2 separate regions of the Homo sapiens genome follow, and region 1 is linked to region 2. Evidence: fine-mapped expression QTL. A gene starts in region 2. The other region holds a variant in brackets. All regions are shown on one strand. Distances are from middle to middle.

Region 1 (5,378 bases), 130 kb before region 2:
ATAATTTGGCACAAAGCAAAATTCTGTTGCATGAATAAGCAATGAACAGAATTCTATAGATACTAATCAAGTTTAGTATCCAGAAAATATTCTGGATATTTTCATAATATCCAGAATATTATGAAATATTTACATTACATAATAATGTAAATTAGCAGATGAAACAATTCTGTCAATACAATGAATTATACTTCCAATGAAGCATATTTTAGTTATTTAACAAATACATACTGCCCACTAGAGTTGGAAATATAACTACACAGAAATACAAAGCACTATCTGGACTTTCTCCCTATATCAAACTTTTCTTTCAGCAGTTATTGTATGTACTGGATAATAACTAACCAAACTAAATTTCAAACATAAAACCATACATTTCCAAAGCATACATGTGTCCATGTTGTTCACTCATCTAGTAATCCAATGTGTACCAGTTGGAAAGTCTAAAGCTAAACAATAGCCTACAGCAAATGTGACTGATGAAAAAAAACAAGCAGTGAATAAATCAAAATCAACTATAACATATACTATAGCCAATTACTAACTTATAGATTTTCACTGGAAACATTTTCTTTAATATTCATGGAATACTGTTTCAATAATTCTACTTCTAACAATTTATCCAAAAGCAAGCACTGGACCAGTATACAAACACATATGTACTAGAATACTTACAAAGTTTTAGTCATAATAACAAAAAACTGGAAAAAATCTAAACCACTATCAATGAGACTGATCAATATACAGATAAAATTAAATGCTATGTACTCAGTATAAATTATTATACTATTATATAGATGTAAGTAATGATATGGGAAAGATACTTACGACACATTACTAAGTGGAAAAAGAAGGTTAGAAACAATTCGTATGATAAATATATGGACAGACGGATGGATGTCTGGGAAGATATACAAGAAAGAGTTAACAATGGTTTCATCTGGAGGATAGGATCATACTTTCATCTTCTATTTGAGACATTCTTATATCGTTTGTTTTTTAAAGTAATAAACATGTAGTTATTATTTTATAATTGGAAAAAGAATGCATTTTTGGGCCGGGCACAGTGGCTCATACCTGTAATCCCAGCACTTCAGTAGGCCAAGAAGGGTGGATCACCTGAGGTCAGGTCTGGTTCAAGACCAGCCTGACTAACATGGTGAAACCCCATCTCCACTAAAAATACAAAAATTAGCTGGACGTGGTGGCGGGCACCTGTAATCCCAGCTACTAGGGAGACTGAGGCAGGATAATTGCTTGAGCCCAGGAGGCGGAGGTTGCAGTGAGCCGAGATCATGCCATTGCACTCCAGCCTGGGCGACAGAGCAAGACTCCGTCTCAAAAAAAAAAAAAAAAAAGAATACATTTTTGTTTTGGAAAAAGAAATATATTGTGTTGATCTCAAAATCTGACTTAATGAAATGTCTCTGATTTTATACATGTTAAGTCTGCAAAGCTACGTAGTAAACAGCATGGAACTTCAGGAACCTCCTACCTGCTAATTCCACTTTTTCATTCAATGAATCTGTCCAAACATACCGCACTTATTATTAGGCTCATTACAATTAAATAATCACTTATAGAACATCCAGCCAGTTGAGGGTTAAGCTTATCAGGTGGCAGTATGGGAAACAATTTATTTCTTTTTTTGAGCAGAATCTCGCACTGTGGTCCAGGCTGGAGGGCAGTGGCACGATCTTGGCTCACTGCAACCTCCGCCTCCCAGGTTCAAGCAATTCTCTTGTCTCAGCTTCCCAAGTGGCTGAATTACAGGTGTACGCCACCATGCCCAGCTAATTTTTGTATTTTTAATAGAGATGGGGTTTCACCATGTTGGTTAGGCTGGTCTTGAACTCCTAACCTCATGATCTGCCTGCTTCAGCCTCCTAAAGTGCTGGGATTACAGGTGGGAGCCACCACATCCGGCTGGGAAACAATTTTTTTTTTTTTTTGAGTTGCCCAGGCTGGAGTGCAATGCCGTGACCTCAACTCACTGCAATGTCCACCTCCCATGTTCAAAGGATTCTCCTGCCTCAGCCTCCCGAGTAGC[G/A]GGTATTACAGGCACCCGCCACTATGCCCGGCTAATTTTTTGTATTTTTAGTAGAGACGAGGTTTCACCATTTTGGTCAGGCTAGTCTCGAACTCCTGACCTCAGCTGATCCACCTGCCTCGGCCTCCCAAAGCACTGAGATTACAGGAGTGAGAAACAATTTTTAAAAGGCATTTCCTCCCTTGAAAATAAAAGGGGACATTTCCCTTGTTATTAGTAAGAGCCCATTTTGCAATCTATTCTTTCATCATTTTTAAAGTTCACAGAAATACTATGTCTCTCTCATATTGTTAGAAGATTCAGAAATCAGTTAAAATACCAAGTATTAGTAATGACTCAAAAGTAGTATTATGTAAGCTTACAATTGAGAACACATTCTTGTAAAATTTCTTCTACAAATGAAAAACCTAAAAATATGGGTGGGCATGGTGGCTCACTCCTGCAATCCCAGCATTTTGGGAGGCTGAGGCAGGAGGATCATTTGAGCCTAGGAATTCAAGACCAGCCTGTGCAACATAGTAAGATCCCGTCTCTACAAAAAATATTTTTTTAATCTAAAAATGTCTCACATCAATAGACTGTAGATACCACGTTCTGATTTCCCAAGAACTTGACAATTTGGAAATGATGTATAAAATAACTGGCTGATGTAAAACAAGGAATTCTAGGGCAGGTGCAGTGGCTCATGCCTGTAATCCCAGCACTCTGGGAGGCCGAGGTGAGTGGACTACCTGAGGTCAGGAGTTCAAGACCAGCCTGGCCAACATGGTGAAATCCCATCTCTACTAAAAATACTGAGCCAAGATCACACCATTGCACTCTAGCCTGGGCGACGAGAGCAAAACTCTGTCTCAAACAAACAAACAAACAAAAAACAAGGAATTCTTCATTTCCTTAAACTGACATTTCAGACTAATGCACACTTTTTTTTATTATAACCAAACCACAAAATGCCCACATTTTAATGTATAAGAGAAAGCATCAGTTGTGTGACAAGGTTTTGCTGAATCTCAATAGTTGGTTTTTTTTTTTTAAGCAGTGGCTAGCCAAAGAAAGTCATTAATATTAACACAGATAATGGCAGAAAACCACAGAAACTCCAAATACAGAAAGGCTGTTCATGTATCCTAACAGCATAACCATTATGGCTGAAAAACCACACAATATTCTTTCTCACATCTGTTTTGTTAATGAGCCAAGAATGAGGGTCTATTCAGTATCCAAGACAACTGAATTAGAAGGTAGGAATGTCTGGTAAATGCTGTTCATCTCAACAGTCTGAGACTAAACAGGTCTGGAAAGGATACTGATCTTAAATAAATTATCTTTTTAGTTTTACCTTCCTGAAAACAGAATTATCACTTTGGTCTTTTTTCCCCTACCCATTAGCAACAACAAAAACTTATAAATTACTTTTTAAGATTCTAGTTTTAAGTACTATAAGATAATATGTTTTGTTAGATTAATAATATTTTAATTCACCTTTCAGGTAGATCCTCAAGTATTTTAAGAATATAGAAACCGATGTGAAACTAGATGGCTATATTATAAAGCAAAATGGTATTCAACTAGAATCCATCAGCTTAGACAATTTGGCAAGAAATCTACTCTGAGCCAGGGTTTTTCCATATACAACAGAGAATTCTTCCAGGAAATGTCCCCTTTACAGGGCCCCAGGCCTCTTTGCATACTGTCAGGCCAGGCAGTAACTAAAAAACGCAATGTTCCCATTGGAAGATATAAACTAATACAAATTAATTCTAAATTACCAACTTATTACATACAATTCTCCAAAAAAGCAAAATGAAGTAGCATGTAGATATCTTTTCATTCATTCTAATGGCTTTCCTAAATAACTTAATTCCTTAAGTTTTAAAAAACTAAACAGATTAGTTTAGAATTTGGTTTAAAAATGTAAAGAACGGTTATATGAGGCTGATAGAATCATGGGTAATTTTGTAAATGTCTTCATGTTAACTGAATTATATTTGAAGGTTATCTATATGTCTTTTCCCTTAAGTCTTTTTTTAGAAGGAAAAATTTATTTTATGTCTCAATTTTTGTTTTCCCTCGGAGTCCCTTCATTGAAAGAGAAATTCTAAACCAAATATCAAAACAATCTTGCACATTTTTATAAGTCCCACTGCCAGTCAAGTGCAATAAATATATTTTTTTTAAGTCATAATGGTCACTCCAGGGCAGCATAAGCCAAAATTTAAGTGACAACCCAGTAGAAAAACCTTTATCACTTTCAAAATTCATGCCCACAGACAGAGCAGTAATTTGATTTTTTTTCTTCAAGGCAAAGAACTACAAGTGAGAAAATTTATATAACGACAAAAACATTTCTCAAAGTTATTAAAGAAGATTGTTTTCTGGGAGGCCGAGGCAGGCAGATCACCTGAGGTCAGGAGTTCAAGACCAGCCTGGCCAACATGGTGAAACCCCGTCTCTACTAAAAATACAAAAAATTAGCCAGGCATGGTGGTGCGCGCCTGTAATCCCATCTACTCGGGAGGCTGAGACAAGAGAATCACTTGAACCCAGGAGGCAGAGGCTGCAGTGAGCCAATATCATGCCACTGCACTCCAGCCTAGGCGACAGAGCAAGCAAGACTCCATCTCAAAAAAAATAAATAAATAAAAAGAAGATTGTTTTAAATACTAAATTGGGACCCTGATGGCATTACATATTTTAGTAGGTATTTTTGACCCATAATTTTTATCTACATCATTCAAATCCCAATCTTGATTTAGTTCTAGCTTCCCATATATGCAACTTTTATTCCTTTGGAACTTGGTTCCAAATAACTTTTCTAAAACTTTTATTATTAAATAAACACAGAACTCTAAAACAACTATTTTCAGACATGAATTTAAAAGTGTAAATAAGAAAGAAACAGTCTATTCACTTTTGCAAGACTGTATAAAACTTCCACCAAACATCAAACAATTTGCATGTCATTAATTTAAGGTAAAAGTAAATGTTTTTCTTCCATTATAAAGTGTAGTTCCTCTGTCCTAAACGGTAGTCTAACATTACCTGAAAACATAGACTAGAATAGTATGGACCTAAAAAATGAGTACTCAGGAGAAGTAACATCATCAAGCATTTCTGCAGCTCCCTATTCCCACTTTATTTAGAACTGAAACATAACCTATACTCTTAGTTCAGCAGTAATTAGACCATAAAAAACGGTGTTTCATCAGATGTTCCCCAACTAAAGAGTCACAGACACAGATGTTAAACTGTTGATTAATTTTTAACTAATTTCACCTTTTTTTTTGTTAAATCAAAGTTCTGATGGTACTAAATCAGTAGATTGCAC
Region 2 (5,378 bases):
AATGACCCAAACTCAGGTCTTTATTTCACCACTTGACCCTTTGAAACCCTAATGAAGTCACTTCATCCTCTCTGAACCTCACTTTTCTCATCTGTAAAATGGAATAACTACCTGCCCTGCCTACCTCCCAGAGGATCAAATGAGCTAATAGTCATAAAAGCACTTTACAAACTATAAAGTACTGCAAACAACATATTACCAAAATAAGTGGAAATCTAATTAATTATATTTCTGAGTATTGGCAGAAACTGAACTAGGTTGCAGGGAGGCGGTGGGCAGGGAGGGATAGAACAAGACTAGAAGGCTTCAGGGACTGTTCAAGTGAGGAGGGCACAAAGCACTAGATCCAGGTGTGCTCTGCCAAAGAAGCAGGGATGATTCTCTAGGTTCTAAAACAGCCTGGATGAATCATCCCACAAGACGATCAACTCCCTTTGCTCTGATTCTATGCTTAGCAGGCAGCTACTTATTAGTTGGGTTTCCAAGGTACTGCAACACCAAAAAAGGAGTTTGCTAGAGAGCAGACAGGAAAATATTCCACTCAACAGAAAAGATCCATGTGACATTTTGGCTTATTCATTAGTGTCTTATAAATGTGGTTAGTGAGAATTAATTTTCCACAATCTGAACAATCCTGAGTGAACCACTAAGTCCTCAAACCTGCAAAAGCTAAAATCAAAACAAAAAAAAAAAAGAGTCCCTGGGCAGTGCCTAATATCACCAGGTTGATCCTTTCCATGAAATTCAGTTTATGCCCACAGTTACACAATTTCTTTCGATATCAGATCATAAATGCAACAGTTGTTTCAATTATGAATTACTAGGGGGAGGGAAGAAACATCTGTTGAGCATCTATAGGCACTAGTCTCTACAATAAGACTTATCATATACTCTCATTTCATTCTCTCAACAATCTTACAGAACATACTTATTATTACCCTCAATTTATAGACGAGAAAATGAAAGTTCAAAGGAATTGAGTAATTTTCCCAGGGTCATACAACTATTACATTACTAGATTGAATCTGTTACATTCCTAAAGACCTGAGCATGTCTTTAGCCAGGGGACATATCTGAAGTTAACCTGGCATAATACACTGAAGTTTATCAAACAATATTAATGCGGCAAGCCAATTTATTTTTAAAAGGCATATGAAATTTGATTATGAGGGCCTTTAAACAATACTTTAAGAAGCAAATTAGGGTGGGGCTTAATCACTCAGCTATGCAAACAAGTGCTAAGTAAACAAACGTGCCAAGTTTCCAAACTCAAATGGCAACTCGAATTTTCTACGCACTAAAAAGATGAAACACTCTACGACTAAGTTCATTATGTAGGTAAAGTTTGAATATTAAAGTGAATTCCACCACAGCCCCTAAACACTGAGCTACTTAGCCAAGGCATTAGAAACCTGTTGGGCTTTGAGGTGGAAGCACCAGGCCCCAATACTCAGGACACTTGTTACAGCCTGGAATGGTTCTTCTGGTTTGGATAGAGAGAAATAACCAGAGGCCATCCATATCCACAACAAATTAGTTTCCAAAGCACTTTCTCCTTCATTTGATCCTCACAACCACTCATAACCCAATTAGAAGAGAACTCAGGGCATTGAAGCCTGTGGTGGAGCAGACTGACTGGCAACTCCTGTGTCACTCAAAGGCTGGCTCAGACCACTCTGAGACTAACACACAGACTGAGTGACAGAGGCACAGGACCATGTTCTTTGGGACATCAGGGCCTTTCAGAAAGGGTGGGCATTTTGTCCCTTGACCTTCAGAGATCATGAGAGGTGTTTGGATGAAGTTCTTCTTCCTCATCTGAAGGCTCTGGACCATCTGCCAGTGCAAAGAAAAATAGGGGCGCGGCCCCAAACCAGGACTACCGGCTGGTAGTAGGCAGCGGGGCCCTTTTCCCGGTCTGGGCCAGGCCTCCGCGCGCACTGGGTAGCGGATCGCCCCCTTCTGAGGCCCAAACTACCCTCGTCGCGACCCCGGGCACATATCGTCTCCCCGAGGTGGGGCCAAGAGTGGCCTCCGCCCGGCAGCGCCGGTCACCTTCCCGAACCTCCCCCCTGGACCTCGGGATCCACCCAACGGCCGGCTGGGGCGCGGTCACCGCCCCCCAGGCCCGGGTCAGCTCCCTCCGCTTCGTGCTGCGGGGCTCGGGTCCCCTTCCCCGAGGCCTGGCGGCCCGAACCCGGCGAGGCGACGGGGCAGCGAAAGTCCCGGCCGCCCGCCCCGGGTCCCGGGTCCCGGGTCCCGCCCCGACCCGAGCTCGCTCCTCACCGGGTCCCAGCGCCTCCATGGCGGCGGCGGGGGCCGCCTCGCCCCGGTCCCCGGCGCCTCCCGCTCCGGGCCCCGCCGCCGCCGCCGCCGCCGCCGCGTAACGCTTGATCTCCGGAATATTGGCGCTGGGGTGGCGCCGCGGAGACGCGGGCGCTGGGCAGGGGGCGGCGGCGGCGCCCGGCCCGGGGACAGGGACCCGGCTCCGGCTCTTCCGGCCTCAGCGACAACAAAAACAATCCCCGCCGCCGCCGCCGCCGCCGCCGCCAACGGGAGCGGGAGCGGGAGCCAGCGCGCGCGCCCGCCGGGAGGGAAGGGGGCGCGGGGTGCGCGGACCCAGGGTCCCGGCGGGCGGAGGGGGCGTGCGCGGCCCCGGGCGCGGGGTCCACAGAGCCCGGCAGGCGGCGAGGCGGGTCGGGGAACGAGCGCGCGCCCGGAGGGTGCAGAGCCCGGTGGACGTGTCGGGCACGCGCCCGCTGGCCCGCTCTGCCCCGTCCACCCGAGGAGGCCGTCCGGTGGCCAACGGCTCTGGGGGCTACGTGCCATCCCCCCAGGGCGTCCTGCAAAAGATCTGGATTCCAGTTCCGCTGACCCACAGATTCAGTTTTCCACTTCTGTGAGTGGAAAGTGTACTGAGATTCACAGGAGCCACCTCGCCTCCCTCCTCCCTCCTCCCACCCCAGATCGCTTCTGTCATCTCGTCTTTTAGGGTCACCTTAGACGCTAGCAGTCCTCCTTCATCCCTTCATTCAGCACCACACACCCAACTGCGCGTCCCTCTCCGTATAGCCGGAAGGCACCACGGGAATGGACCCTGATGAATGATGCATTCCCTCCCTGGTCCCATGACAAGCGCCTCTGGTCAGCAAATCACCAGTCACTTTAGAAGAGAAAGGTCTTGGCCGGGCGTGGTGGCTCACGCCTGTAATACCAGCACTTTGGGAGGCGGAGGCGGGTGGATCACCTGGGGTCAGGAGTTTGAGACCATCCTGGCCAACATGGCGGAAGCCCATCTCTACTAAAAACACAAAAAATTAGCCGGGCGTGGAGGCAGGCGCCTGTAATCCCAGCTACTTGGGAGGCTGAGGCAGGAGAATCGCTTGAACCCGGGAGGCAGAGGTTTCAGTGAGCCGAAATCGGGCCACTGCACTCCAGCCTGGGCGACAGAGCAAGACTGTCTGAAAAAAAAAAAATAAAAATAAAAGAGAGAGAGAGAGAGAAAGGTCTTGCTTTCTTGGATGCCTTCCCCTTAGCAGACAAAAGCCAAGGGAGCAGCACCACCTCCAAGGCAGCATGGTCAGCCCAGCAGGCACAGCATCTTTAGGGCTTTCAGTAAGGACTTTGAGTGGGAGAACACTGGACAACAGGCCAAGAAGCAGTTTCTAGTCAGCAGAAGGAAGGAGCCCCTTGTCCACCAATTGAAAAGGTACGATGAGTTTGTGTGTGTGTGTTGTATTCCTTTGCTACGGCATAACGTAACAAAGTACCACAGACTGGGTGGCTTAAACAACAGAAATTTATTTTCTCACAATTCTGGAGGCTGGCAGTCAGAGATACGATGTAGGCAGGGTTGGTTCCTTCTGAGGCCTATCTCCTTCACTTGGTAGATAGTGGCCTTCTCCCAGTGACTTCACGTGGTCTTCCCTCTGTGCACGTCTGTGTCCAAATTTCCTCTTCTTATAAGGACAGCAGTCCTATTAGAGTAGGGCTCACTCTAGTGACCTCGTTTTAATTTAATTACCTCTTCAGAGACCCTGTTTCCAATTACAGTCACATCCTGGGGTGCTAGAGTTAGGACTTCAATATACAAATTATTGGGGTGGGGGATAATTTAGGCCCCTAGCATGTGTGGTGGGATATTCATTTGAGCACCTGCCATGTGCTGTCACAGAGCCAGGTAGTTTTTTTATGTAATGATAAAAAATATTAGCATCACATCCTGGCCATGCACTCTGCTATGGGCTTCTCATTGTCACTCAATCTTTACAACCACCAGTAAGGTAGATATTGTTAAGAAAGGTATTTGTACAGATGATGACACCGAAGCTCAGGGAAGTTAAGTAAGTCGGGCTTTGCATTACATGATGCTGAAGTGAAGCATGGGAAAAATTGGAGTTCAAATCTTGCATTTAAGTCCTGGCTAATTCTCTCCCTGATTGGCTATGGAACTAGGACTTTTATTTTTTTATTTTTTATTTTTTGAGACGGAGTCTCGCTCTGTCGCCCAGGCTGGAGTGCAGTGGCGCCATCTCGGCTCACTGCAAGCTCCGCCTCCCGGGTTCACGCCATTCTCCTGCCTCAGCCTCCCAAGTAGCTGGGACTACAGGCGCCCGCTACCACGCCCGGCTAAATTTTTTTTTGTATTTTTAGTAGAGACGGGGTTTCACCGTGTTAGCCAAAATGGTCTCGATCTCCTGACCTTGTGATCCGCCCGCCTCAGCCTCCCAAAGTGCTGGGATTACGAGCTTGAGCCACCGCGCCCGGCCGGAACTGGGACTTTTAATCTAGTGCCTACATTCTTGTCTACTGATACCATACCCTATATTCTTTTATTTTTTTTGACCCGGAGTCTCGCTCTGTCGCCCAGGCTTGGGTGCAGCAGCGCGATCTCGGCTCACTGCAAGCTCCGCCTCCCGGGTTCACATCATTTTCCTGCCTCAGCCTTCCGAGTAGCTGGGACTACAGGTGCCCGCCACCACGCCCGGCTAATTTTTTGTATTTGTAGTAGAGACGGGGTTTCACCATATTAGCCAGGATGGTCTCGATCTCCTGACCTCGTGATCCGCCCGCCTCGGCCTTCCAAACTGCTGGGATTACAGGCGTGAGCCACCATGCCCGGCCACCATACTCTATATTCTTTTCACAGCATCATGCTACCTCTCTGTTAAACCAGATAGTAACTGGAAATAGTAATAGGGGACAGAATGTTCAAAGGGGAGAAAGTATTTACTAAACGATCAGACTGCTGCACAGCTAAGAAAAGAAAAACCAACTAGAGTTGGCCGGGCGCGGTGGCTCACGCCTGTAATCCCAGCACTTTGGGAGGCCGAGGCAGGCGGATCATGAGGTCAGGAGATCGAGACCATCCTGTCTAA

The links.
Region 1: its variant is fine-mapped to the expression of AGO4 in whole blood (TOPMed, PIP 0.95).

What each region holds. Positions count from the first base shown.
Region 1 is chr1:35,933,961-35,939,338 of GRCh38, reverse strand. All of the region lies in intron 1 of AGO3 (argonaute RISC catalytic component 3), which reads right to left. Among named protein-coding and RNA genes, the nearest start is that of AGO3, 5.5 kb to the right of the region's middle. The variant G/A (reference allele first, on the strand shown) is at 2,051.
Region 2 is chr1:35,805,344-35,810,721 of GRCh38, reverse strand. It overlaps AGO4 (argonaute RISC component 4), which reads right to left and starts at 2,706. Exons shown (of 18, transcript NM_017629.4): 1 at 2,287-2,706. The coding sequence starts at 2,305. It overlaps CLSPN-DT (CLSPN divergent transcript), which reads right to left. Exons shown (of 3, transcript NR_199050.1): 3 at 3,782-3,977. RefSeq lists enhancers at 1,654-1,933, 3,033-3,532 and silencers at 2,084-2,333, 2,614-2,823.